Regions from separate parts of the Homo sapiens genome. Here regions 1, 3 and 4 are each linked to region 2. The links come from fine-mapping of genetic effects on gene expression. A gene starts in region 2. Each other region holds a variant in brackets. All regions are shown on one strand. Distances are from middle to middle.

Region 1 (7,696 bases), 25 kb after region 2:
AATTTTGAAAAATATAGTATTTATTTTAACATGTAATGGGCTTATTGTCATTTTTAGCTGAAATAGATATTTTCAAAAGTTCTCCATTTTAATGTCTAATATGGAAAATATCAGTAGATAAAATCATTGGCAGCAGGGTGCAGTAGCTCACACCTGTAATACCAACACTTTGGGAGGCCAAGCCAGGCGGATCACGAGGCCAGGAGTTCGAGACCAGCCTGGGCAACATAGGTAAACCCCATCTCTACTAAAAATAAAAAACTTAGCTGGGTGTGGTGGTGCACATCTGTAATCCCAGCTACTTGGGAGGCTGAGGCACGAGAATCACTTGAGCCTGGGAGGCGAGGGTTACAGTGAGTCAAGATGGCATCACTGCACTCCAGCCTGGACGACAGAGCAGAGCAAGGCTGTCTCAAAAAATGAAAAAGAAAAAAAGTCAGTGATGTGCTGCTAAGCAGGATCTCCACAAAAAGAAAAAAAGCCTGATCTGGCAAACTAGCATTTGCCAATTTTGATGGTGTGAATACTCCCTTCTTTTCCAGTTTCAAGCTCCCAACTGTTTAACAGTTGGCTTGACAAATTTCCTGAATATTGAATTCTTGTGAGCAGGTACAAGTTGACTCCAGCACACCAATGGATGCAACCCACATAAACAAAGGCTCTTTGCTGGTCCTCAATAATTTTAAGTGTATTAAGGTGTTCTGAGCAAAAGAAGTTTGAAAACCACTGCCCTTATCCAAGATGTCCCAACTTTATTGACTTGAAGAAAACAGATAAACTGGTAATTATTATAAAAGCATAAAAGCAAACAGGGGTAAAGAGTTGGCTTAGAGCTGCAGGCACCACTCTGGGTTTCTGGCTGTTTCAGAGCTGAGGGGTTCCAAGTCTTGGAGCAAGAAACTGATTCAACATCCAGGCTCAGTGGCTCACGCCTATTATCCCAGCACTTTGGAAGGCTAAGGCGGATGAATGGTTTGAGCCCAGGAGTTCGAGACCAGCCTAGGCAAAATGGCAAAACCCCGTCTCTACGAAAAATACAAAAATTAGCCGAGCGTGATGGCTCATGCCTGTAGTTCCAGCTACTTGGGAGGCTAAGGTGGGAGGATGGCTTGAGCCTGGGAGGCGGAGGTTGCAATGAGCCAAGATGGTGCCACTACACTTCAGCCTGGGTGACAGAGTGAGACCCTGTCACAAAAAGAAAAGAAAAGATACTGATTCACGTCATCAGGTATGGTGTGGTCCACAGAACAGGAAGCTCTGTGTGAGGTCTGATTTTCAGCCACCTGCTGTGTAAAGGAAAGAGAGAGGTGCTTGCTGAGCAAAGTTTCAGACCAGAAGACCAAGAGACAATTCAGAACAGCAGCAGATTCTACCCATGGTGGCATTCCTGTAAAGTGAAACTCAAGCGCCAAGTTTGTTGTCATGGGGACTGTTGATTGCATGCTAGTCTTATGGAAACACACGGAAAACCAGAGGTCAAATTCAGTAGCATCTCAGAATTCAGATAACACAGCATGTACAGTTTCAACCCAGCAGGCTGTGTGTTTATCACTTCAGGAAATGACTCATAAGCAGTAAGGAGATGAGCTTTGAAAGCTGCATCTGGCCAGGGCACGGTGGCTCACCGCTGTAATCCCAGCACTTTAGTGAGGCCGAGGCGGGTGGATCACCTGAGGTCGGGAGTTTGAGACCAGCCTGGCCAACATGTGAAACCCTGTCTCTACTAAAAATACAAAAATTAGCCAGATGTGGTGGCACACACCTGTAATCCCAGCTACTCAGGAGGCTGAGGCAGGAGAATTGCTTGAACCCAGGAGGCAGAGGTTGCAGTGAGCCGAGATTGTGCCATCCAGCCTGGATGACAAGAGCGAAACTCCATCTCAAAAAAAAAAAAAAGAAAAGAAAGCTGCATCTATAGTAGCCTGCATGGTGGCAGGGCCAGTCTGGCTGTTTTGCCTATCTTAATGACTACATCTGCAGGTCATTTTGGTGTGCTGCTATGCGACCCATCCAAGGAAGTGAAAACACCACGAAGGGTGGGCTGTCCAATACTGAGATGCATTCGTGAGCAAAACCATAATCATTTGATATCTATTTTTGTTGTTTTGTTTCCTATCCTGGGATATCTAGTTGCTCTTGAAACTAGCTGACACATATTTTAAAAAAAACAAGACAAATAATATATTCCCATCCTCCAGAAGCTAACTGGCTTTGGGATTTAATCCTAATACTTAATGTTTAGTTAGGAAGCACAAAATTTGAAGACCTCAGATTTAGAATTTTATCAGCTCTGCCTTGTAACAAGTTTTAGAAACTAAATCAGTTGGCCAGGCCTGGTGGCTCATGCCTGTAATCCTAGCTTTTTGGGAAGCCAAGGCGGGCGGATCACCTGAGGTCAGCAGTTCGAGACCAGGCTGGCCAACATGGTGAAACCCTGTCTCTACTAAAAATACAAAAATTAGTCAGACATGGTGGCACGTGCCTGTAATCCAGCTACCCGGGTGGCTGAGGCAGGAGAATTGCTGGAACCCGGGAGGCAGACGCTGCACTGAGCCGAGATGGCACCACTGCACTCCAGCCTGGGCAACAGAACGAGACTCTGTCTCAAAAAAAAAAAAAAAAGAAAAGAAAGAAAGAAAAGAAAAGAAACTAAATCAGTTCTCAACTCTGGTTGCGCATAGAATCACTGGAGAGCTTCTAAACAATTCCAGTGCCAATCTCTGGGGGCGAGGCCTGGACATTGATATTGTTTTCAAGCTCCTCAGAAGATTCTGATGTGTAAACCAGGGTTGATACTAAGAAAAGAAAAATCCCTCAGCAGTCTGAGCTATGTGAGGTGTGCAAAATTTATTAGGCCCAGAGAGACGGGAGTAGAGGACTTCAGTCACACCCCCGGCACATACCCTCCCCCTACCCACCACCCCCCATGCCTGTGGGCAATTATTTAAAGTCATTTTGTTCCTGGTGGTGTGGTAGCTCATGCCTGTCATCCCAACACTTTGGGAGGCCGAGGCGAGAGGATCCCTTGAGGTCAGGAGTTTGAGACCAGACTGGTCAACATGGTGGAACCCCTACACTCCTAAAAATACAAAAATTAGCCAGGCATGGCAGCATGCTCATGAAATCCCAGCTACTCGGGGGGCTGAGGCAGGAGAATTGTTTGAACCCAGGAGGCCAGAAGGTAGAGGTTGCAGTGAGTCAAGATGGCGCCACTCCAGCCTGGGCAACGGAGAGAGACTCCATCTCAAAAAAAAAAAAGGCATTTTGTTCCTGACTAGCTACATTCCCTGTTATCTTCATGTTCCTGGAATCTGTGATACAAAGAACAATGTGTATCCAATCAACAGCTTATGTTATTTTAATGTAAATTTTGATAAACAACTTAGGAACTGCCTCTTTTCCTTTATAAACATTCACATGCAACTGCTGCTAATCAGATTGTATATTCAGGACAACTTGAATATACACTTCAATATACACTGGGTTGCAGTCCTCAAGCTTGGCCCAAATAAACTCTCTACTTATATTAATTTTGACTCAGCTTCTTCCTTTTAGATCAACAATACCACTGTTTTTGAAAAGTGCTTCTTAGCTTATATACTGCTGGTGGGAATGTAAAGTATTAGTTCAGCCATTGTGGAAAGCAGTGTGGTGATTTCTCAAATAATTTAAAACAGAATTATCATTCAACCCAGCAGTCCCATTATTGGGTATATACCCAAAGGAATAGAAATCATTCTACCATAAAGACATCTGC[G/A]CACAGGTGTTCACTGCAGCACTATTCACAATAGCAAAGCTATGGAATCAACCTAAATGCCCACCAATGATAGACTGGATAAAGAAAATGTGGTACATATACCCCATGGAATACGATGCAGCCGTAAAAAAGAACAAGATCACGTTCTTTGCAGCAACATGGATAGAGCTGGAGGCCATTATCCTAAGCCAACTAATGCAGAAACAGAAAACCAAATACCACATGTTCTCACTTATAAGTGAAACTAAACATTGAGTACACATGGACACAAAGAGGAGAACAACAGATACCAGGGCCTACTTGAGGGTGGAGGATGAGAGGGAGAGGACTGAAAAACCACCTATCGAGTACTATGCTTACTACCAGGGTGATGAAATAATCTGTACACCAAACCCCCAAGACACACAATTTACTTATATAACAAACCTGCACATGTACCCCTGAACCTAAAGTAAAAGTTTTTTAAAAAAGAAAAGAAAATAGTGTTTCTTGGCCAGGTGCAGTGGCTCACATCTGTAATCCCAGCACTTTGGGAGGTGAAGACAGGAGGATTGCTTGATGCCAGGAGTTTGAGAGTTTGAGACCAGCCTGAGCAACATAGCAAGACCCTGCTAAAACAAATGTAAGAATTAGCTGGGTGTGGTGGCACACGCCTGTAGTCCCAGCTACTCAGGAGGCTGAGACAGGAGGATCCTTTGAGCCTAGGAGTTCAAAGTTACAGTGAGCTGTGATCTGTCTGCTTCTCAAACTTTAACCTGCATACAAATTACCAGAGTCTGCTGCAACTGGTCCGAGGCTGGGTCTGCCTGTGTAACAACTTCCCAGGTAAAGTTAAAGTTGCTCCTTTTGGACTATGCTTTGAATAGCAGTGCTCTCAGAGATAGCCCCGAGGCAGAATTTGGCTAGGTTGCAGGTCCAGGGATCCAGAAAATCAATTCTCATATTCTTAAAATCATTTTCTGAGACAATTTTTTTTTATTCTGAGAAAATTGGGGCAATTTTTAATGTAGTGGCAGCATATGTTCTTAATCAAAATTTGTTGTAGGTGATATCTATCTTGCTGTATGCTTCCTCTCCTCTTTCTCCCTTCTTTGGTTCTTTTCTAGGGAAAAAGATAGCTTAAATGGCTCTAATCTTATACATAAAACCATTTCAGAAGACACTGGGGGTTTAAAGTGGCAACTCCCATTTTTTAAAGATAGTGCCCGGCAGATAGCGGCAGCGCCTGGTTACCAGAAAGCAACTGTGGATATTTTTCCTGTCTCTGGGTCTGGCTGAAAAATGGTGACCTCAGGGAAGCACTAGGGTGCTACTTAGCATTCAGGAGCTTCAGTCTTGATGGAGCTGGAATGAGAAGTTTTGCAAACCCAAAGGCAAATGAGTCAGCCCAGGGATCATCATCAGAGGATCCATGATTCCACTGTGCCTGGGGAAAACCAAAGATTTTGTTAATCAACTCTGGGAACACATTTACAGCACATTCAGTAAACTTGGAGTAAATTCGTCATTATAGAAGCCCTCTTACAAGTTGATTGAAAAAACTAAATGATGAAAGAAAAACTACAATTTGTTAGCCAACGTGGGAAAAAATGTTACATCTCAGCGATAATCCAATAGCTGCAATTTAAAACAAGATAACACCGGCTCGTGTCCAATTAACAATGATCTTTTTCTATGATGGCTAAAACAGCTCCCTAATAAGTATTACAGAAGGAATGGAGGAAATAAGGAAAATAATATAAATACCAGAAAGGGTAAGATAATGTCGGTGGACACACTTTAGGAAAGCAATTTGACAAAATGTCATCATCCTTACATGTTCATAACCTTTGACCCAGTTGTATGACTTCTGGGAATCTATCAAGAAATAATTACAAATAACATCAAAAAAAGTAATAGGCTTCTGGTTGTTAATAGCAGCCTTATTTGCATGTTAGCAGAAGACAAAATTCCTCTAGATGTGTAATTTTAAAGGACTTCTCCAGAGACTATTATACCCTTTAACAATGAGACGTTTTAAGTGTATGTAACGACACAGAGCAGTGCTTATAATGTTTAATTTTTTAAAAAATAAGATGCAATGATATACAAGCAGTACAAAACCAACAAGATGGGGAAAAATAGATCTAAGTCAAGGCAAAGACTAATGAGAAATATACCAAGATGTTTAAACTTGCGTTTTGGTAATTGGGTCATTTTTTTTCCTTTAAAGTATTTTCTACTTCTCTCTTTCCTGAGTATGTACTGCCTCTCTAGCAAAAAAGCAACCCACATTAAAACAAAAGTAAAATAATCTGAAAAAACAAACAAATCTTTCTGACCATCTCCTAGCCACAATTAGTATTTTGTGCCTCAATATATTATTCAAGCAGGAAATAATGGTGTTAGGAAATCATATGATTCTACATATAGTTGACATCTTCAAGATTCTCCCAAAATATCTTGTGGAACTCTGAAATTCTCAAAAACATAAAAATATCTTTAGCCATGGCCAGGTGCAGTATCTGACACCTGTAATCCCAGCTACTTAGGAGGCTGAGGCATGAAAATCGCTTGAACCCTGGAGGTGGAGGTTGCAGTGAGCCCAGCCTGGGCAACAGAGCGAGACTCTGTCTCAAAAAAAAAAAAAAGAAAAAAAAAAAAAAAAGTCATTAGCTATACTCTGAAGCCAGAAATGTTTCTATTTGTCCCCAGCAGCTACCAGAACATTCAGTACAGCATTCTGTCATCATAACCAGAGCACGACTTTTTACTCTGATAGTCTTTATACTTGTGCCAAAAGGGCTATTCATTTGTTTTCTTCTGGAATTCATATTTCCTCATCAAGCAGCAAATATTATTTTTGCAAAACAAAACAAAAACTTTGACTGATTTTATTGCATAGTTATGTTAGTCCTCTTATTCTTGAAATTAATGAATGTGTGTAACCCACATTCTATTATTCAGTATTTTAAAAATCTGATTAATTATCCCATAAGCTCTTTTTAAAACATACTTGAGCTTTATTTAATTTCTGCATTCTTTGACCCATGTTGTTGGATCCTTAATTTCACTTATTCATTTTCTTACAATTATTAAATGGTCTCTTACATGGTGAGACTGAAGCTGGTATCCATAGGCTTGTTGCTTCTGTATAATGAAGGCAGCTTCAGTAGTCGATTGAACCACCCAGCAGTGACTACATTCAGTGCTTCTGGAAATGGAGTCCACAAAAGTCTTTTGAGCTGCTTGTTATAATGCAGGTTTTTGGTCTCCATCCCGGACCTAAAACCAGAATGTTTGGGATAGGACCTGGATCATCTGCATTTTTAACAAGAGCTGGGGGTGATTCTTATGCAAACCAAACTTTGAGAACCATGGATCTAGTTTTTACATGAAATCTCTAACCTAGTAAACCACAGTTTATTTGTTAAAATGCTAAAGTTTTTCAGAGTTGACCTGTATATTATCATGTCTCTCAGTAAAGTTATCGGAATATTAGTATTCTTTAGCTATAACCCCCTAGATATTGACCCTAAATATCTGACTATATCCACTGAAAGATTTAACCTTACAAACAATTGTCTCTATCACTTACTCTGCCTTGTCTCTCCTCTCCTCTAGAAATACAAGTCAATGCCCTGTATTCATGTAGGATTTTTATTGTATTTTTTTTAATAGGTAACACTCATATGGTTCAAATTTCAAAAGAACAAAAGGATATACAGTGAAAAATCACCCTTTCCTTTCTGTCATCTCCTGGAAGACAACCACAGTTAACAGCTTCTTGAGTATGGTGTTGAATCTATTTAAAAAACAATCTGGAAACTCATTATTACTTTTGGTAGGAAAGCTAAAAGAGAGTATACAATAAGCTTTTTTTTTTTTTTTGAGACGGAGTCTTGCTCTGCTGCCCAGGCTGTAGTGCAGTGGCACAATCTTGGCTCACTGCAAGCTGCC
Region 2 (8,024 bases):
TGGCTAACACGGTGAAACCCCGTCTCTACTAAAAATACAGAAAAATTAGCCGGGCGTGGTGGCAGGCGCCTGTAGTCCCAGCTACTCAGGAGGCTGAGGCAGTAGAATGGCGTAAACCCAGGAGGCGGAGGTTGCAGTGAGCCGAGATCGCGCCACTGCACTCCAGCCTGGGCGATACAGCGAGACTCCGTCTCAAAAAAAAAAAAAAAAAAAATTATGCTAAAGAGTAAACTCAAAGAAAGTAGAGGAAAAGAATGAATTAAAAATCTGTGTTTATAAATAAAAATAAAAGTAACGGAGCAAAAAGACGGGCATTAGAAAATAGTCATTTCTGACCTCTGGTCAGATAAAGGGAAAAAAGCAAAAAATTAGCTATGTTAGGAATATAAATGGGGACAACACTACAGATAAAATAGTTTTAGAAGACTAAAATTTATTATATGTATACAAGGGAATAGTATACTATTTAAAAAGAATTAGATAAACATGTACCAAACAAGCCTCAAAAAATACAACTGGCAGAAATATTCCTAGAAGGAATCCTTTAGTCAATATGCACAAAGCATTTAAGCATTTCATTATTTTTGTTTTTTTTTTTTTTTTTGCTTTTGTTTTTGTTTTTTTGAGACAGAGTCTTGCTCTGTTGCCCAGACTGGAGTGCAGTGGTGCAATTTTGGCTCACAGCAAACTCTGCCTCCCAGGTTCAAGTGATTCTCCTGCGTCAGCCTCCCAAGTAACTGGGATTACAGGTGCACACCACCAAGCCCGGCTAATTTTTGTATTTTTAGTAGAGACGGAGTTTCTCTATGCTGGCCAGGCTGGTCTCTAACTCCTGACCTCAAGTGATTTGACCGCCTCAGTTTCTCAAAGTGCTGGGATTACAGGTGTGAGCCACTGCACCCAGCCTTCATTGTACGTCTTTTTGTCACTAGAGGTACATTTTGTTCTAACAACTAAGACCCCAAAGCATCCTTTTAAGCTTTATCGTTTTGTAAAATGGTTAAAAATAACATTTTCCACCAATGACACAGATAAAATTTTAAAATGTGGTGGTATTATTCCATTCTTATTTTAAGGATATACATATATGCAATTTGTATGTGGATATGATTTTTTGAATGGTGAACAGAAACTTAGTGGTCAGGTAGCTGGATGCGGTGGCTCATGCCTGTAATCCCAGCACTTTGGGAGGCTAAGGCGGGTGGATCACCTGAGTTCAGGAGTTTGAGGCCAACCTGGCCAATATGGTGAAACCCAGTCTCTACTAAAAATACAAAAAATTAGCCAGGCGCGGTGGTAGGCGCCTGTAATCCCAAGTACTCGGGAGGCTGAGGCAGGAGAATCGCTTGAACCCAGGAGACGGAGGTTGCTGTGAGCCGAGTCCGCGCCATTGCACTCCAGCCTGGGCAACAAGAGTGAAACTCCGCCTCAGGAAAAAAAAGAAAGAAAGAAAATAAGAAAGACAGAGAGAGAGAGAGAGGAAGGAAGGAAGAGAGGAAGGAAGGAAGGAAGAGAGGGAGGGAGGAAGGAAGGAAGGAAGGAAGGAAGGAAGGAAGGAAGGAAGGAGGGGAAACTTAGTGGTCAGATGGCAACTAGGGGAGGGGAGGCAGAAGGTAATTTATTTTTCATTTCATATCCTTCAACTATCAGAAATTTTGTCATATGTGTTTATATTTTCCACTGTGTTTCATTGATTCTAAAATGCCTTTTCTTCATAACCCTGAAATTGGAGTGTTTCTTACAATCATTGGTATGTCACATTTTTTTCTGGCTTGTGGTAATGGGTTAAAATGATAAATTGTAAAATCAATGACGTCTTAGGAATAATGAAAAATAGTTTAATAGTGAATGAAGAACTATGTAATTTTAACTGTTCACATTTACTCTTGGGTATGTTTCCAGAGGATAACTGAACGGGGATAGATTTTAAAAAGCTTTATTTAACTGGGTACTTCCGCAATTTAGTGATCAACTTCTGTGTACAACAAGGTACTGTCCTTTGAGGATGATGGGAGAATACAGGGAAGAACGAAATCGCCTCTGATCGTACTTTCTCCACGGATGTAAGTGTCCGGGCTCTAGTGGGGGAATGATACTCTTCGTGCGAAATTCACTTTTAAAAAAGGCTTAGAAAACTGACCACCGGCTCTCAGCTGCAGCTTATCAACCACAGAACTCCGAATATGCCCGCACATCAGTGCGCTGGGTTAAGAGGAGAAGGGGCTGCGGCTGAGCTTTCCTAGAAACAGCTATTTGGGGACCCATTTCCTGTTGGAGTCTGAAAGGCGCACGCACCAGAGCCAGTGGCAAAGCAACTTAAGCTGCAGGCTCCTCCTGCCCACCCCCAGCCGCGACGCCCCTGGGGGCCCTTAGCAGACTGCCAAGCGAGTGTCCCCGCCCTGTGCCTTGAATTTAGCCAAACTCCTTTAATATCAGGCCTGGCGCGGTGATTCACGCCTGTAATCCCCGCACTTTAGGAGGCTGAGGCAGGAGGATCGCTTGAGGCCAGCAGTGAAATTAGCCGGACATGGTGGCGCGCGCCTTTCTGTGGTCCCAGGTAATCCGGAGGCTGGGGCGAAAGGGTGGCCTGAGCCAGGGAGATCGAGGCTGCAGTGAGCCGTGTTGGCGCCACTGCACTCCAGCCTGGGCGACAGGGCAAGACCCTGCCTCAAAAACAAAACAAACTGTAATATCGTTCAAGAACGTGTGAAGGACACTTGGAAAGTTACCAGGCCATTTCTCTCCTGGGCGCCCGCGGCCCTAGAACGCCGGCCTCACCGGCAGACGCGCGCCCTCCTCCCAGATGCGCAGGTGACCCCGGCGGGCGGCGCGGGAAAGGGAAGAGCTCCGCGAGGCCGCGCGGGGGGGAAGCGGGAGAAGCCGCTCTTCCTATTCCACTCGCAGTCTGCGTGTGGGGGAAACGAGTGCCCGGCGTATGAAACGCCTAACTTCGCGAAATAAAGAGAGACGTATAAAAGTTCAAGAATTCTGTCCAGACTCAAGGGCCCTTTCTCATTTAGGGGCAACCCTGTCACTACATCATAAACTTTTAAATCCGTGATCCCCACGTTACAAAAGCAGAAGTCCCTTTTAGACTTTTAGCGAAAACTGAACTTTGCCGGTGTCCCACACGGAGGGAGGGAGGACGGGAGGCCACGCCAGGGCTGCGGGGCTGCAGGGCGTGGACGCATCCTGGCCGGGGCGTCCACTGTCGACGTCTCCACATCCCAGGAGGGTCGAGACGGCCGCGGGAAGCAGCCTGCGAGCCGTGCGGCCCCATTCCAAGGACCCCGCCAGTGTGAGTCACTGACAGCTTCGCGAATCAACGGTGCCCAGAGGAAAAAACTTCTCATTTGGACTTCTAGGCCCGGCAGTGGCCGGCGGCCAGGGCCCCCCAGTAGGGCAGGGCGGGGCGGGGCGGGGCGCACAGAGCCAGAGGGGCTTGCGAGCGGCGGCTGAGGGACCGCGGGGAGGGGGCGCCGAGCGGCTCCAGCGCAGAGACTCTCACTGCACGCCGGAGGGCGCCCTTCCTCGCTCGCGCCCGCGCGACCGCGCGCCCCAGTCCCGCCCCGCCCCGCTAACCGCCCCAGACACAGCGCTCGCCGAGGGTCGCTTGGACCCTGATCTTACCCGTGGGCACCCTGCGCTCTGCCTGCCGCGAAGACCGGCTCCCCGACCCGCAGAAGTCAGGAGAGAGGGTGAAGCGGAGCAGCCCGAGGCGGGGCAGCCTCCCGGAGCAGCGCCGCGCAGAGCCCGGGACAATGGGGCCGCGGCGGCTGCTGCTGGTGGCCGCCTGCTTCAGTCTGTGCGGCCCGCTGTTGTCTGCCCGCACCCGGGCCCGCAGGCCAGGTGAGAGATGCACGGGAATGGGGTGCGCGGGCGGAGGGACGCCGAGGGGAGACTGCGGGGGTCACTGTTGCGCCTTCTCCTCACCCCTGCCTCAGTTTCCTCCGAAAGCCAAACTGGCATTTGGGCTGAGATCTGGAGTTTTTTCCAGTCACGTTTAGGTGGGGCGTGCCACCCCCTTCGCGGGCCCAGCCGATGCCCCTTTGGACTCGATCTTGGAGGGTGCAGCCCGCCTGCCACGGGGTGTTGGATATGGAGGAGGATGGAGCGGAAGCCCCCTGGGGGAGCCTGCAGTCCTGCGTTGCACTTGTCATTGTGTTTCTCCCAGGACCACCCCCAAAAAGAAAAGCTCTCACGTTGCTCCACCAATAAACGTTTCGATCTTTAAAATATAAAGTGGCGAACCGCTGCCGCTGAAGTTTTGCTTTGTTGGAAGTTTTTTTCTTGCACATTTTACAGGCGAGAAAAGTGATGTAGAGAAAAGCCCAGGCAGTCCCTTGGCATGTTTAGCAGAGAATCAGTACCAGCAGCCCCCGGCCCGGCCTTGTGTCCAGGAGGTGCGCAGGGTGCGAGATATATGGTGACAATAGCAGAGGCTCCGCGTGGTGGCGGGGGAGGGGACATGGAGAGGATTTTGTTGTTACCTAGAACCCATTCCTTCTAAGTGAGTTGAAGAGAGAGATCCCTCCCCAGGACCGGGCTCCCTCGAACACTGTGGGATCCCAGTATTTCTTAACGAGATTTCTGATCCACTGCAAGAAGGTTGCTCCCCTAGAATATTTTCCCCACTAGTAGTCTATTTTTAAGTATCTGGCCACTTGACCAAATAAATAAATTTGATTAATTTATTTGGTCAAATATTTTCTGTATCCCTTTCCCCAAGAGCAGCACAGATGAGTTGTTTTTAGCCTGTAAAGGCGCTAATTAGAAAGTGAGAAAAGTGTTTTTGAATTTCCTAATAACAATAGTATTTTATAAGCTTTGAGCCATTTTTTTTACGCTGAAAGAAGTTCTAGCGGGTTTTCTTGTTATCGCTAAAAGAATGTGCACTCTATATTGCTCCCACACTCAAAAAAAAGTGTAGACACATCAAGATTAAGAGGTGACAAAGACATAGCATGTTCTCGCCTCTCTGTCTTTGTTCAGGGTGAGTTTTGAGATGCTTTTGGGAAAACTAAGAGCTCCAGACTGGGGCCCAGTGTTTAGCAGTAACTAGCCTGCCTGCAGATAAGTGAGCATTGTTGCCGAAAGTGTTTGAGAGAACACCGAGAACTCCTGAAAAATTGTTTGCGATGAGATATGATTTCACATACCATTATGTAATTTGCACAATGTAGTTTGAGGACACGCTCTTGAGAATCCAGTGTTTTGTTTGAGATTTGGATCATGGGGTGGAGAACAGAGCTTATAGAAATGCTGCACCCTTTCTCACAGTGGCCTCCCAGCAAGGTGTGTAGCCTCATTAGGGAGTGAAGTCAAAGCGTACTGGTTTCTGCCAAGCTTCTTACATCCTCATGGCAGGAGTGGTGCATGTTAATATGGACAGTGCTGGTGTAGACAGAAAGGCAGGTGGATGAACTTGGCTAGTTTATCAACACTGGATTCTGGAACCACTTTGGGAGGGAAAGAAGAAAGGAGTATGATAGAGGAAAAGGAGCGCTTGCTAAGTGCCATATTCCATGTCAAGCCCTGGGCCAGAAGGAATTTTCACTTGGATTGTCTCATTTCACCTTGTCAAAACACCTTGTTAAGGTGGGTATTTATCCCCTTTTGCTGATTCTGCAACTAAGACCCAGAGACAGCGGCTAAGCAAGTGGTGGCGGGTGGGGCAGGGAAGGGGCAGTCCACCCACCCTGGGTGCAAGCAATTAGGAATAAGTGGGGCTTTGTCTTTAGAAAATTTAAAATCACTAATAAAATCAACCCAAGATAGGTTTACTTTCTATTACCACCATGCATTGACAATTCTAAGCATTGTCTGTCATAAGGTAGTGGTGCTGGGACTCTGAGGCATCCAACAGTGCCTCCCATCCTTGAACCGCCACCGCTGTGATAGAGTTTATTGTCCAGGATTACCAGCTCTGTGTGCCAAGAGGGGCGGTGAAGCCCTCCCAGGGCTGGCCCTGACCACCAAGCTGAGCCTTCCTCCAGCACTTCCCGACTTTTTGTTCCCACTCATTTTGGCATTTCCTGCCTTGTCACTTTGTGTGTGTGTCTCATTCTCCCAACTAAGATTATAAAGTTTTATTTATCCCCATGGTGACTAAAACAAATGTTCACTCAGCAGATAGTTGTTGAGAAATGTGTAAATTCATCAACCAGTTTACATTCGTCTAGACAATTTAAGTGAGATGATATGTGATCATTAAAAGGGCCAACATCCAAGAGTAAAAGGTGATGTTTATAAATTTTATGGGGCTCTAGAGGGTTAAAGTGTTCAAGAATAGCTGGTGGTGACTATGACAGAGAGAACTTGGTGGGCAATTCCACTTGCTACCCTCCTACTCACAGAGTCAAGCCCAATTCTCTGGCATGGAATGAAGTGCTCCTCCCCTTGCAGGAGGGTCCCCAGCCCCTCTCCAGCCATCTCCTATTACTCACCCTCCAGTTCACCCAGCCCCATCCTCTAGATCCTCCCTTCAAGGAGCTATGCTTTCTCTGGCTTCTGTCCGCATGCCACTCCCTCTGGCCAGAATGCCCTCCCCATATCCCATACCCGCCACGTTCATGTTTAATTAAAAACAGCTACCCTCTGTGGAGTACTGACTACAGCTGACATCCTTCTTAGGGACGTTACAATACTATCTTATTTATTTCTCACAACAGCCCTTTGAGTAGATGTCATCCTCATTTTACTGGTTATAAAACAGAGACCCAGAATGGTTAAGTCACAAGTTGAGAAAGAGGTGGAATTGGGACTGGGTGCGGTGGCTCATGCCTGTAATCCCAGCACTTTGGGAGGCCAAAGCAGGGGGATCACTTGAGGCCAGGAGTTTGAGACCAGCCTGACCAACATGGTGAAACCCTGTCTCTACTAAAAATACAAAATTAGCTGGGTATGGTGGTGCACACCTGTAGTCACAGCTACTTGGGAGGCTGAGGCACCAGAATTGCCTGAACCTGGAAGGCAGAGGTTGCAGGGAACTGAGATTGTGCCACTGCACTCCAGTCTGAGCAACAGAGTGAGACTCTCTCTCAAAAAAAAAAAGAGGTGGAATTGGGAGTTGACCACAGGCCTGTCTCTCCGAAGTGCAGGCTTTCTCTAACACCCCCTATAGAAAGGAAGCCATCTAGACTCCCAGCACCTCTTACAGTAGAGAAGTAACCCCACTGTGCTCCCTAGTACAGTATGGATTTACCTATTTTTGATAATTCATCAAAATATAGAAGCAAAGTCTGTGCCCTATCGCCTTGGTAGCTCAGGCCCAGCACAGGGAGGTATTTAGTGAGCATTTATGCACGGACTGTGGTATTCTCTCATTTACTTTCGCTAACAGATGATAAGGCAGGCTCTGAAAAGATCCCTGCTCATGAATACACTAATTAATCAGATGTTACAAGAGATATTGCTAGTAAACCTAAACAGAAAGACAGAAAACTGAGCAGTGGTTCTACCGTAAGCAGACCAGAAAGCTCTATAAAGCCTGAAAGTCAGATTTCTTATGAGTCAGCAAGTAATTTTCTGCCCTACTATCTATCTATCTATCTATATCTAATAATTTTTAGTGGCTTTGCCTTTATTTTTATAGAACATACCAGCATAGCAGGTTCTCAGGGTCTGGGTGCAGTGGCTCACACCTGTAATCCCAGCACTTTGGGAACCCTAGGCCAGATGATCGCTTGAGACCAGCCTAGGCAACATAGTAAGACCCCATCTCTATTAAAAAAAATAATTAAAAAGTAGCCAGGCACTGTGGTGTGCACCTGTAGTCCCAGCACTTGGGAGACTGGGAGGATGGCCTGACCCAGGAGTTCAAGGTGGCAGTGAGCCATGGTCACGTGACTACACTCCAGCCTGGGCAACAGAGTGGGAGAGACGCTGTCTTCAAAATATTTAATAAATGAAAATTTTAAATTTAAATTAATCATTTAAATTTAAAAAATAAAATAATAAAATTGAGGTAGAATTCACATAACATAAAATTAACCATTTTAAAGTATACAATTCATTGGTATTTA
Region 3 (4,003 bases), 41 kb before region 2:
TGACTGTTCTCTAAAGAAGGGGCAATACTTCAGTAGCAAACACAGCTCAGTTATTATCATCAGTGGAAGTCCTGTGATTCCATTACCATCTCATCTTATGTTTAATTTTTAGAAAAACTACTCAGCTGAAGTTGACTGGAACAATTGCTGTGTGTTTTTTCCTCACTCCGCCTTTTTTCCATTATTTTCTTTTGTCATCTGTTTTATATGTAGTTATGGATTGAGGTATATAGCCAAAGTACTGAAGAATTCGATCCATGAGAAATTCCCCGATGCAACAGAAGATGAGCTATTAAAGGTAGATTTTCAAGGGTAATCTCACCATAGCTTCTCCTGGGGGTATGAATCAAAATTACCAACATATAACTTTGTAAGATTATTCCCCATGTATGATTATTTATAATAAGCTGCAGGTCTTCTGTTTCTAATGACTCTCAAGATAATTGATTAAGCTGAGGTTAATTTGGAGATCCTAGACATTATTGAAATTCTTTGCATTAGAGCATTTTGGGGGCAATGAGCATTTTTTCATCAAAAATAACTTTGCAAATTATGCTATTAATAATGTGTGATTATATTCATTGCCTTTATTAAACTCCTTGTTAGGATTTACATCAGAAAATGATCTGCTTTCTCTTGGGAAATGTAGGAGAATATATATCTTTAAAAAAAAAAAGAAAACTAAAACTCTTGAGTTTTCTCTCTTAAAAATGGTCATGCACTTCTGCGTCACTCCAGATTGTTGGAAACCTCCTGTACTATCGGTACATGAATCCAGCCATTGTAGCTCCAGATGGCTTTGATATCATCGACATGACAGCTGGAGGTCAGATAAATTCTGACCAAAGGAGAAACTTAGGATCAGTGGCCAAGGTTCTTCAGCACGCAGCCTCCAACAAGCTGTTTGAAGGAGAAAATGAGCATCTCTCATCTATGAACAATTATTTATCAGAGACGTATCAGGAATTCAGGTGAGAGGGGCCCTTAGTTTTGGAGAAACGTGCAAGAATGGTAGGCAAGAATAATATGTGCTCTGTGCCCAGAGCTAGAGTGGGCATGGAGGACAGGAACCCCAGGTGGTTACAAGCATTTCTTCTACCAGCCACTGGGGAAAGAGGAGAGAGGGAAGTGCAGGCAAGATTGCCTCTGTCTGGCGATCCTATCGCACCCCCACCACAGCACTCCTATTACACTGAGTCTTTTCTGTGTGTATTATTTCTGCTGCTGACAAAATGGCATACTTGTTCTTCCTTGTATGCTACAGGCTTCCAGTACCTAGAATTTAAAAATCAAAATAGCAGATTTCTGCTTCTTTCAACTTAAGAAGAGAGGAATCATTTTTAAAAAGTTTTCCGGTGAGGAAGAACTTGCTTATCTACGTCAGATACATTTGACCCTTGATTAACACAGGTTTGAACTGCTCGGGTCTATTTATATATGGATTTTTTCAACCAAAGACAGAGAGAAAATACAGTATTCATGGGATGCAGAACCCACATATACAAACAGATGACTTTTCACATACATGGGTTCCACAAGGCCAATTTCAAACTTGAGTATGCACAAATTTTGGTGTGTATGGGGGTCCTGGAACCAATCCCCCAAACATACCAAGGAACGACTGTAGTAGGAAATGGAATACTTGATTTTGAAAGGTTAGGAAAACCCAGATTTTATATTTGTTGATGATTGT[G/A]TATGTGAATATGTTCTGTTCTATTCTCAAGCCTTTCTTAATGACACATGTAAGAAGATTTAATTCTATTGATTTTGTGTTTCCAAATTATATCACTAATCATTAACAAGAAAGGCATGAGTCTGGTAGTCAGATTCACTCCTCCTGGAGCTCTGAGGAAACACTTTCCTCTTGTCATGTTTGTTCTCATGTCTGCCATTTAATCAACAGGCCATAGAAGTGTAACATCAGTTTGGCCTCTTTTAATCCTCACTTGGAAACTCATTTCTCATTCCTCGGTCTCCCTTGGAGTGAGTGACTTACTAGAAAACAAAGGTAGTTCATGATTATTCATTTCTATTTAGAATTTGTGGTCTTTTGTGAGAAAATTGCCCCAAATCCTCCTACTACAGAAAGTGTTGATTTTTCAAGCTAATTTTTCATTCTCCTCACTGACTAACAAAGTAATATCCAGGCTGGGCAACATAGGGAGACCTCATCTCTACAAAAAATTTAAAAAATTATCTGGGCATAGTGGTAAGCACCTGTAGTCCCAGCTACTCAGGAGGCTGAGATGGGAGGATCACTTGAGCCTTGGAGGTCAAGGCTGCAGTGAGCCGTGTTTGTGCCACTGTACTCCAGCCCAGGTGACAGGGTAAGACTCTGTCACACACACACACACACACACACACACACACACACACACACACACAAAGTAATATCCATTTCCCACATTTCTCATGAACTTTTAACTGCTGTTATTCCTATCAGTCATTTATGTTCCCACCTATTCTTTATTTAAAAAGAAACAAGACCAAAGAAGTGAGCCTCTTCTAAACTTGTCCTTTCTTCCACTCATATTTATCCTTTGTGTTTCTCAGAAATCTACAAAAAATTATAACCAAAGCAGCATAGGAAAGCCGACTGTTACATGGGAACATGCTCCCCACAACAGGGCTCTGCTGTTTAACCTCCCCCAGCCTCTGGCTGGGAAAGCAGAGGTCATTTCTGGTACATAAGACCCAGGTGCCTGTAGGAGAGATGCCGACAATGATTTCAGGCATATGAAACATTTACAACTTTATAGAATAAAATGTATATTCGACCTGCACAAGAATTGTTTAGGCAAAAAATACATAGAACTATTCAACTGTGATCACAGCATGCCTCACTTCTCTTGATCTCTGTCAAAACTTGCTTTAGCTTAAAATAGACTTTTTAGGGTCTGAGTCCTGGGACATGTTATGTATTTGGGTGTCTAGCCTTAACAATCTTTCCATCGGCCAGCAAATATTTGCAGCAACGAAGAAGAGTAGACTTAATCTCATTTTTGTCAAACTGGTAACAGAAGCTCTGAAGGGTGATTAGGGTGATGTAGGCCCAGGAGCCTGTGCTGTTTAAAGCAGCAAATTTGACTAATTGCTTTTTTTTCTATTGTATTCCTCACACAGACTTGATTCTTAGATCAAGAATTATCATTTTTGACTTTTTAAGTTTCAGGGACCATTTTTAAAATAACATTTTTAAGATGACCTACGCATAGGTCACTATATCACTAAGTCACAAACAGGGCCTGAGGCCCTTGCCACTCTCTCCAATCCTGTTTGAGGAGCTGGGTCCAATATCCAGAAACATGGATGCAGCTCCGACAGCCAGGAGCCAGCCTGGAAGAAGCTGTAACACGTCCTCTCAAGGTTTGAGATGGGAACAAAGTACATGTCATCATTCAAAATTTCCTAGCTATTTTGATGAAACTGTTTAATGCACATGTTTGAGTCTGTCTTAAGACTTTTCCCCCCTTTATTAGGAAATATTTCAAAGAAGCATGTAATGTCCCTGAGCCAGAAGAGAAGTTTAATATGGACAAATACACAGACCTGGTGACAGTCAGCAAACCAGTCATTTATATTTCAATTGAAGAAATCATCAGCACACACTCAGTAAGTGGGGATGGGGAGCCATCTTAGCAATGGACCCATGATTTAGGCATCTGTTATCTTGAAAATGCTTAATCTCTACAGGACTTATTGTACACATGTGCTAATACTCATATTCTTAACCCTAAAAATCTCGCAATTATTTATTCCATGACTCTTATACATTAATAAAACTCCTTCTCCCAAACAACAAAATTCTATTTTTACATAATTATTCCCTGACTCCTAGACATTAATAAAACTTCTCCCCAAAAAAGAAAGTGTACTTTTGGCATAATCCATTTACAAAGCCAGATTGTGACTGGAATGGTGGCATATGCCTGTAATCCCAACACTTTGGGAGACTGAGGCAGGAGGATCACTCAAGCCCACAAGTTTGAGACTAGCCCGGGCA
Region 4 (8,024 bases), 220 kb after region 2:
AGAGATTTGTAGACCTTCATGTGAAGAGGAGAATGTTAATAAAAACTTCTTGTGCATCAGCATCCTAAAATTCTACTGTTGCAGCTGCTGGTCTGATTTTCCTACAACATGGGGAGGTGTTTGCAGTGAAGATATCTTCTATTCCCACAAAGAGTAGTTTTTCATCTTTAAATCTTTAAAACAAAGAAATCTGAAAGCTAGAAAACAGCCAGGGATTTCCAAATTCAGTGTTTCCTAAATTCGTCTGTGCTACAGAATTATCTGTGATGCGTGTTAGACAGAGATTCTCAGACTCTGACAGCATCTCCAGAGAAATAGCTGGGATCGCTCTACTGAGCAAGCTCCCTGCTTATGCTCAGGCGTGGGCAGGTCTGGCAACATGATGATTGCACATCCAAATTGTACCAAAAAGAAAAACAGGTGCACAGAAATGATACACCCAAGGTCCCTAGGAACACAATAGAACCAGGACTGAACTTAGGTCTCAAGCACATAAAAATCCAATCTTATTTAATTTCCATGGTAAGGAGGCACACATCTCACAGTGTGGGTTTCAGGACCACAAAGCCTAAGGTTTGGTTGCTTAGGGCAGTAGGTGATTGGACCAAACCCTTCTATTCAATCCTCAGCAAGAAGTTCTGCAGCTCGATACCTTAGAAAAGATGCAATCACTCGACTCTGAAAATTCCCTGTTAGCTTGTCAGCTGGGGCTGCTTTAATTTTACTTTTAGGTCATAATTCTATTTAATACCACTGAGCTCTGTTCTATTGATCACTGGGCTTGACTCAGCACTGATGTTTTTGAGGAATTGACCATTATGTCTGAAGTGTAGGGTAAAGCGGGTATCCAAGGAGAAGAAGAGTGTTTGAGGCCCTATGATTTCCTGGAATATTACCCATCTGGGAAATTGTGTAGGAGTCCATTGGAGGAGATATTTTAAAACTCCAGCTTGGCAGAGGTTTTGTGGAAATGGACACCTAAATCAATTCGAGAGCAGCCTATGAGAGCTAGAATGGGGTCGGCAAAGTTAACAGCTTTTTTGCCTGAAGGAGTGGGGGCAGTGGGGTATGGAACAGGTATTCTTGCTGGCTTGTAGGTGGGTGAGCAGGGAGAAAGAGCTCTAGTCTCTCTTTTTCCTTTTCTTTCTTCCTTTTTTTTTTTCTTTTTTGAGACAGGGTCTCACTCGGTCGTCGAGGGTTGGAGTGCAGTGGCACAATCACAGCTCACTGCTACCTCCACTTCCCTGGGCTCAGGTGACCCTTCCGCCTCAGCCTCCCGAGTAGCTGGGACTTATGGAGGTGTGTCACCACACCTGGCTAATTTTTTAAAAAACTTTTTTGTAGAGACAGGGTTTCACTATGTTGCCCAGGCTTGTCTTGAACTCCTGAGCTCAAGCAATCAACCCACTTCAGCCTCCCGAAGTGTTGGGATTACAGTCTCCAGCCACCATGACTGGCTCCTCTTTCTCTTCTTATTTGAGGACAATAATCTCATCATGAGGTCCCCACACTCATGACCTCATCTAAACCTAATTACCTTCCAAAGGTCCCATCTCCAAACACTATCACATGGAGGATTAGGGCTCCAGCCTGTGAATTAGTGGGGAGGGGCACAGACATTCAGTCCATAATAGGAGGTGTCCTTACCTTCAGCCCCGTAGCGTGGTTGAACCTTGGTGGGGATGGAGAAGTGCTATAGAAAAGACCAGATGGATAGCGAATCTGAGAACATTAAGGTTGCATTAGGAGGCCACTGACTGTGGGAGTCTAATACCCAGAAGTAAGCTGCAATCTTAAGAACAAGATGAGATCACTTACAGGAAAGAAAGAACATTTGGGTTTTTTTTATTCTTCTTTTTTTTTGTGCACACATAAGTCTCAGTGTGTAAAATTTGACACCAGGATGTCCATATATACACATTCACACACACATAGGAGAGACAGAGGAACATAGTAGGGGTAATATCCATAATGGTAGTTATCTCTGGATGGTAAAATTATGTTATTTTATCTTTTTTCATTGACCACTAGTGCGGATTTTTCTAACATGGATTATTATTTATATATATAATTTATAACAAAAACTTCCCAATATATCTTTTCATAAGATGTCAGTTATTTTCAAAGGTCACTTGTGTTGTGTCTGCATCTTTCAAAATCATAGGTTGTAAACTCAAGCATTTAAATTCTTTTTTTTCTCCCCAGTGAAAAGATAGGAGATTTGTTGCTGTTGTTTGTCTGGTTTTTGCGCAGGACTGACAAGTTATTTTGATGTCTTATAGGCACAACCTAAGTAATATAATTTGGTTAAGTTGGAAAATAAGCATTTTGCAGAGCTTTCTCCTAGGCTTTCAACAGCACAAGATTTTTATGCCCTTCTCACGATGAGACCGAAGTGAAGACTTTTTTTCTTTTTGAGACAGGGTCTCTCACTCTGTTGCCCAGGCTGGAGTGCGGTGGTGTGATCTCAGCTCACTGCAATCTCAGCCTCCCAGGTTCAAGCAATTCTCCTGCCTCAGCCTCCCAAGTAGCAAGGATTACAGGCACCCGTTACCACGCCCAGCTTATTTTTGTTTTTCTAGCAGAGATGGGGTTTCATCATGTTGGCCAGGCTGGTCTCGAACTCTTGGCCTCAAGTGATCCGCCCGCCTTGGCCTCCCAAAGTGCTGGGATTACAGGTGTGATCCACCGTGCCTGGCTGTGAAGACCATTTTTGAAACTCCAGTTAGGGAGATGTCTCCCACTGTGTGGCCGACCCCTTCCCATCCACAGATGAATGACTTAGTCATTACCTTTTACAAAGAAAATTCATTTATTTTTTCATCAACGCTTTAAAAATAAAAACAAAATAAAGCTAGACATTTTTTTCTGATGGGATTTGGGAAGAAAGATTAAAAAAGTGTAAGAAAAGCCTTTAATGACTCTGTAATATTTAACACCTAAACAAAGCGGCTTAGTACCAGTGGGAGCTGAAACTCATTAAAATGAAAATTATATTTGCTTCATCAATGCTAAAATAAATCCAAGGGAAAACAAAGAGGTACTTTTGTAATTAAATTTAACTTACTGTCATAATCTCAATTCTCGCTATTTGCAACTGTGGGAGTTATTCTCAAAAGGATGTTTAAGGATAAAGTTTTAGAGTCCACAGTATTCCAAGTTTGGGATAAAATTGAGATGATTCAAAGGAGAGAGAAAGAGGAAGGGGTGTCAGGTGGTGGGGGATTGAGAGCTTCAGAGAAGCCAGGCGGAGTGCCCGGATGAGGCTTCCCATCTCCTGTTCTCTACTGTGTTGCTGGGTGGAGTTCTCGCCTCCCTCAAGGGATAGCATGGAAAGAAAAACGTTGTTCCAGTGGTGTCTCCTCTGTCAGTACAGTGGAACAGGGAAGAATCCTGTGGAGTGAGACGGCCTCTTCGAGAGGA[T/G]TTCTAGAATTGGGACCCAGCGGGTGGAGGAATCACCTCAAACAGTGTGAATGTTCCCTAGAGAGCTGAGCAGTCTCTGACCTGGTCGACATAACCACTCACCTGCTCAGAACGGCCCGTGATATGCTGCTGAATACCAGAAGGAGCTGTCGCCTGTTACTGGGTGGTAGCTACCTACCATCCCCGGAGCATTTGTTACATGTCAGGCCCTGTACTAAGTAAACACTTTTCATATACTATCTCACTCAATATTCACAACAACCTTAGGGTACAGGAATTATTGTTCCTATTTTTTAAGAATACAACTTGAAAATTTATTCTCATTTCTTCATGGCCACACCTTTCATTTGATTGTGGTGAGATATACATAACAAAATTTTACCAAAATTTTAAGTGTACAATTCAGTATTAAGTATATTCACAATGCTGTGGGACAATCACCACCACCCATTTCCAGAACTTTTTCACCATCCCAAACAAAAACTTTGTACCCATTAAACAAAAACTTCCTATTCCTTCTTCCCCCAACCACCTGGTAGCCACTAGTCTACTTTGTCTCTATGAATTTGCCTGTTACAGATACTGCATATAAGTGGAATCATGTATTTCTGGCTTATTTCATTTAGCATAGTGTTTTCAAGTTTCATCCATGTTGTAGTATCCCATTATATAGGCTAGGAAACTGAGACTTATACTAAATAACTTGCCCAGGACCACAGAAGAATTAGTGACAGAGGAAGAATTCATATCCAGGGATGTCACACTCCAAGGTCCATGCTCTTAATCATCCTCTACCAAGTGTTTCTCCCAATGCAGACCACAGACCACTAAATCAGAATGACCATGAGTGCTTAAAAAACACAGATTTCTGGGCTCCACCCTACTAAGATAATCCTTCTAAACGATAATCCTTGTACTTTTAACACATTCCCCAGTTGATTCTTATGCAAAACTAAAGTTTGTGAATTACTTCATTCTTCTCTATTGAAAATGCAACTAAGGAAAGATGGCGGCAGAGAAAATGAAGACATAGTTACAAACTCAAGGCCAAGTGATCTCATGGAAAAGGAGAAATGAGTAGGCAAGTGCTATGGTTTGACTAATAGTGTCCCCTCCAAAATTCATGTTGAAGCCTAATCCCCAATGCAACAGTATTAAGAGGTGTGGCCCTTGGGAGGTGACTAAATCATGCAGGCTCCACCCTCATAAATGGGATTAGCACCCTTATAAAAGGGCAGAAGGTGGAAGGGAGCATTCTCTTGTTCTTTTGTCTCTTCCACCATGTGAGGACACAGTGTTCCTCTCCTTCAGAGGAGGCAGCAATGGGAACCATCATGGAAGCAGAGAGCAGCCCTCACCTGACACTGAATCTGCTGGTGTCTTGATCTTGGACTTCCCAGACTTCAGAACAGTGAGAATTTAAATTTCTATTGTTTATAAATTACCCAGTGTGTGGTATTTTGTTATAGCAACACAGACTAAGACAATAAGCTCTAGGAGTTGTCAAATGCCTATATATTTTGTTGGGGTCTCCTGGAGGGATTTCCAACGCATCCACCCTATTTGCCCTTTGTGGCCCCATGAGTCATCCTTTCATGAAGTGAAAAGATACATCTCTTATAGTCATGCCATATTTTTCATTCCAAGTTTTACGGTTTATGTCAATATGTATTATGTATGAAAAACAAACTAGCTTTTTGTCAAATGCTGCCAAAATGTAGCATCTCAATGTCTGGCATAAGAAAAGAAAGACACAAATGGTGATTGTGATGCTGGCAAACCAATGCACAACGTAGCCAAAATACATGTCATATTTAATGTGGGACTAAAAACTCACCTTCAGGAAGACTTTCACCTTGAAATCTGGTGATGTGTGGAACAGATGTTTTAATTTAGCTAAAATTATTTGCATAATCGATTTAACACATGGTTTATCAAACCTGCCAAAGAGCAGGTGACAATATGGAATTAATATGATTACTAATTTGACACATCATTGAGATTAATTTGACCTTTCTCGATCTCAGAATACCTAGAGGTCTTCACAGACAGGAATAGTGTGCTATGAAATGCAGTCTAAAATCCACCATCTTAGCATCATAAAGTAAGCAACCACTTTGCTCAGTCTGGCCTCATGTTTCTATTCCTTTTCTTTCCATCTCTTCTCTAAATGGAAAGGAAGGCAATGAGTGAATATTGGGGAACATATCTGATTCACAGTGTTCAAAATTTTATGAAAAGTAATTGATCTAACGTGCCTCTGATACTAGATGTGGTACTGCCTTCTCCCTGGTCTGTTGATTTATCCTTGAATCTAGACTCAAAGGATATCACCTTTGAGAATTAATTGGCTTAAGCCTTTAGCTTTAAGTCTAAAGACTCAAAATAATGACTTTTTTTTTTTTTTGCGATGGAGTTTCACTCTTGTCACCAGTTGTCACCCAGGCTGAAGTGCAATGGCATGATCTCGGCTCACTGCCACCTCCACGTCCTGGGTTCAAGCAATTTTCCTGCCTCAGCCTCCCAAGTAGCTGGGAATACAGGTGCACACCACCACACCGGGCTAATTTTTGTATTTTTAGTAGAGATGGGGTTTCACCATGTTGGCCAGGATGGTCTTGAACTCCTGATCTCAGGTGATCTGCCCACCTCGGCGTCCCCAAGTACTGGGATTACAGGCGTGAGCCACCGTGCCCGGCCAAAATAATGACTTTTAAATTGTATATCAGTTTGATTACAATAGTAAATTATTCTATTAGAAATAATAGAAATGTTTATTAATAGGGAATTGATAAAATAAAATAATATCGTATGCGAGTAAAATGCTGTGTGCCCATTTAAATGATGTGGAAAAAGTATATTTAATGATATAAAAACATGTTTGTGATATGTGACATGAAGAAATCATATTGCATCTCTGAAAAATAACAATAAAAACGAGAAATCATATTGCAAATTAGTATGTGCACTATAAGCTTATTTTTATAAGAAAAATTATGTACATATCTAAAAGGATAAATATCAAAACGTTAACCATGGTTATATCTACATGGTAGGATTAAGGCTGATTTATGGTTTTTCTTTTTTATTTATATTTTAAACAATTTTTTAAAACCATGAACATACAATTTTTTGGTGTAATAGAGAAAAAAGTCAATCAAAAAAATATTTGTGAAGTGAGGATGGCAGATTGAATCAGCATCCAATTTTACTCTCTCCCAAAACTCCATTAAAGTTCCTACACACACACACACACACACACACACACACACACACACACAACCATGAAGGAAACAACAGCAAGAATGTTTTGGAAGCTGGAAACATTTTGGAAACTGGTTTGGTAGGCTCGCAAAAGCCTAACCTCAAGGCTGCAGTAGGTAAATGAACCAAGCTGCTTTAGGCTGCAGAATCCTGCCTAGGATTGCCACTGGGGATGGAGATGGGAAGAGGGAAGAGGCAAGGGCACTGAAAGAAGGAGCACTGGGAAAGGTTGTCTGAGAAGCTGCGAGATCTCAAGAGACGGTCTCTCCTTCGTCATTCCTCAGCCCTTGAGCCCCTCATCCTTCACCCAACAGGAGTATGGAAGCTTATTCTCTGTATTATGGACACTAGACACAGTTGGAAGTCTGATCGTCATACGCAAAACAGAAAGAATAAGTGATCTTATGCTCAGCAAATCCCGGCTGCAGAGCCCTCCCTGACCTTTCCACTCAGGTCCAGGACACCAACAGCCAGACTCTGACCCTTCCAGATAAGATATTGGAAATGGCTTCTTCATAAAGGCTAAATTTATGCTTGCCCCTCAAGATTGCAAAATTAAGCAACATATCACTTAAGGACACATATGTAGGTGATATAACCAAAAGAAAAAAAAAAGCAGGGGAATGAATACTCTTGCCCTATGTAATGAGGAGGAAGGGGTTGCACCTGGGGTAATACCTTGGTAATGTTTGATTTTTTTTTTAAAGAACTAGAGTGATAGGAATATAGATAGTATAATAATACATTTTATTATTCTTATTTAAATTTTAGATGTGCATTTTATATATTCTTCCCTACCTATTTTATATTTTACAATTCACAAAATGTTGGTAGGCCAGGCACAGTGGCTCATGCCTATAATCCCAGCACTTTGGCAGGTTGAGGTGAGCAGATTGCTTCAGCCCAGGAGTTTAAGATCAGCCTGGACAACATAGTGAGACCTTGTCTCTACCATAAAAAAAAATAGCTGGATGTGGTGGCACACATCTGTGGTCCCAGCTACTCAGGAGGCTGAGACAGGAGGGTTGCTTGAGCCCAGGAGGTCGATGCTGCAGTAAGCCATGATTGCGCAACTGCACTCCAGGCTGGGCAACAATGCAAGACCCTGTCTCAAAAAAAAAAAAAAAAAAGGAGGCAACCTAAGACCTCTTCCTTTCTGTGTGATTTTCTCCCTTTCTTCTTTTCATCCCTATTATGTTTCTGCTGCTCTTTCATTCCCTTTTTCTTTTCTAGAACTTTATAGAGGTCAAGAGTTCAAGATCAGCTGGGCCAACATGGTGAAACCCTGTCTCTACAAAAAATACAAAAATTAGTCATGCACGGCGGTGCATGCCTGT

Which allele goes with the higher level. Alleles are on the strand shown, and positions count from the first base shown. SD is a standard deviation of normalised expression in the study named. Not every link is listed here.
For the expression in sun-exposed skin of the gene that starts at base 3,580 in region 2, allele A in region 3 goes with a higher level than allele G (moderate effect, 0.56 SD a copy in GTEx).

Evidence for each region. PIP is the estimated chance that this variant, and not a neighbour inherited with it, causes the effect.
Region 1: its variant is fine-mapped to the expression of F2R in whole blood (TOPMed, PIP above 0.99). The same link has a PIP of 0.9 or more in blood mononuclear cells.
Region 3: its variant is fine-mapped to the expression of F2R in sun-exposed skin (GTEx, PIP above 0.99).
Region 4: its variant is fine-mapped to the expression of F2R in sigmoid colon (GTEx, PIP above 0.99).

What each region holds. Positions count from the first base shown.
Region 1 is chr5:76,737,656-76,745,351 of GRCh38, forward strand. No RefSeq gene overlaps it. Among named protein-coding and RNA genes, the nearest start is that of F2R, 25 kb to the left of the region's middle. RefSeq lists enhancers at 1,265-1,594, 1,695-1,764, 3,898-3,977. The variant G/A (reference allele first, on the strand shown) is at 3,758.
Region 2 is chr5:76,712,547-76,720,570 of GRCh38, forward strand. F2R (coagulation factor II thrombin receptor) reads left to right here and starts at 3,580. Exons shown (of 2, transcript NM_001992.5): 1 at 3,580-3,849. The coding sequence starts at 3,762. It overlaps NCRUPAR (non-protein coding RNA, upstream of F2R/PAR1), which reads left to right. Exons shown (of 1, transcript NR_028375.2): 1 at 1-342. RefSeq lists a silencer at 3,386-3,635 and enhancers at 5,429-5,929, 5,930-6,430.
Region 3 is chr5:76,673,739-76,677,741 of GRCh38, forward strand. It overlaps IQGAP2 (IQ motif containing GTPase activating protein 2), which reads left to right. Exons shown (of 36, transcript NM_006633.5): 26 at 214-298; 27 at 739-971; 28 at 3,480-3,612. Among named protein-coding and RNA genes, the nearest start is that of NCRUPAR, 37 kb to the right of the region's middle. The variant G/A (reference allele first, on the strand shown) is at 1,694.
Region 4 is chr5:76,929,954-76,937,977 of GRCh38, forward strand. It overlaps a transcript of S100Z not described here. Among named protein-coding and RNA genes, the nearest start is that of CRHBP, 19 kb to the right of the region's middle. The variant T/G (reference allele first, on the strand shown) is at 3,424.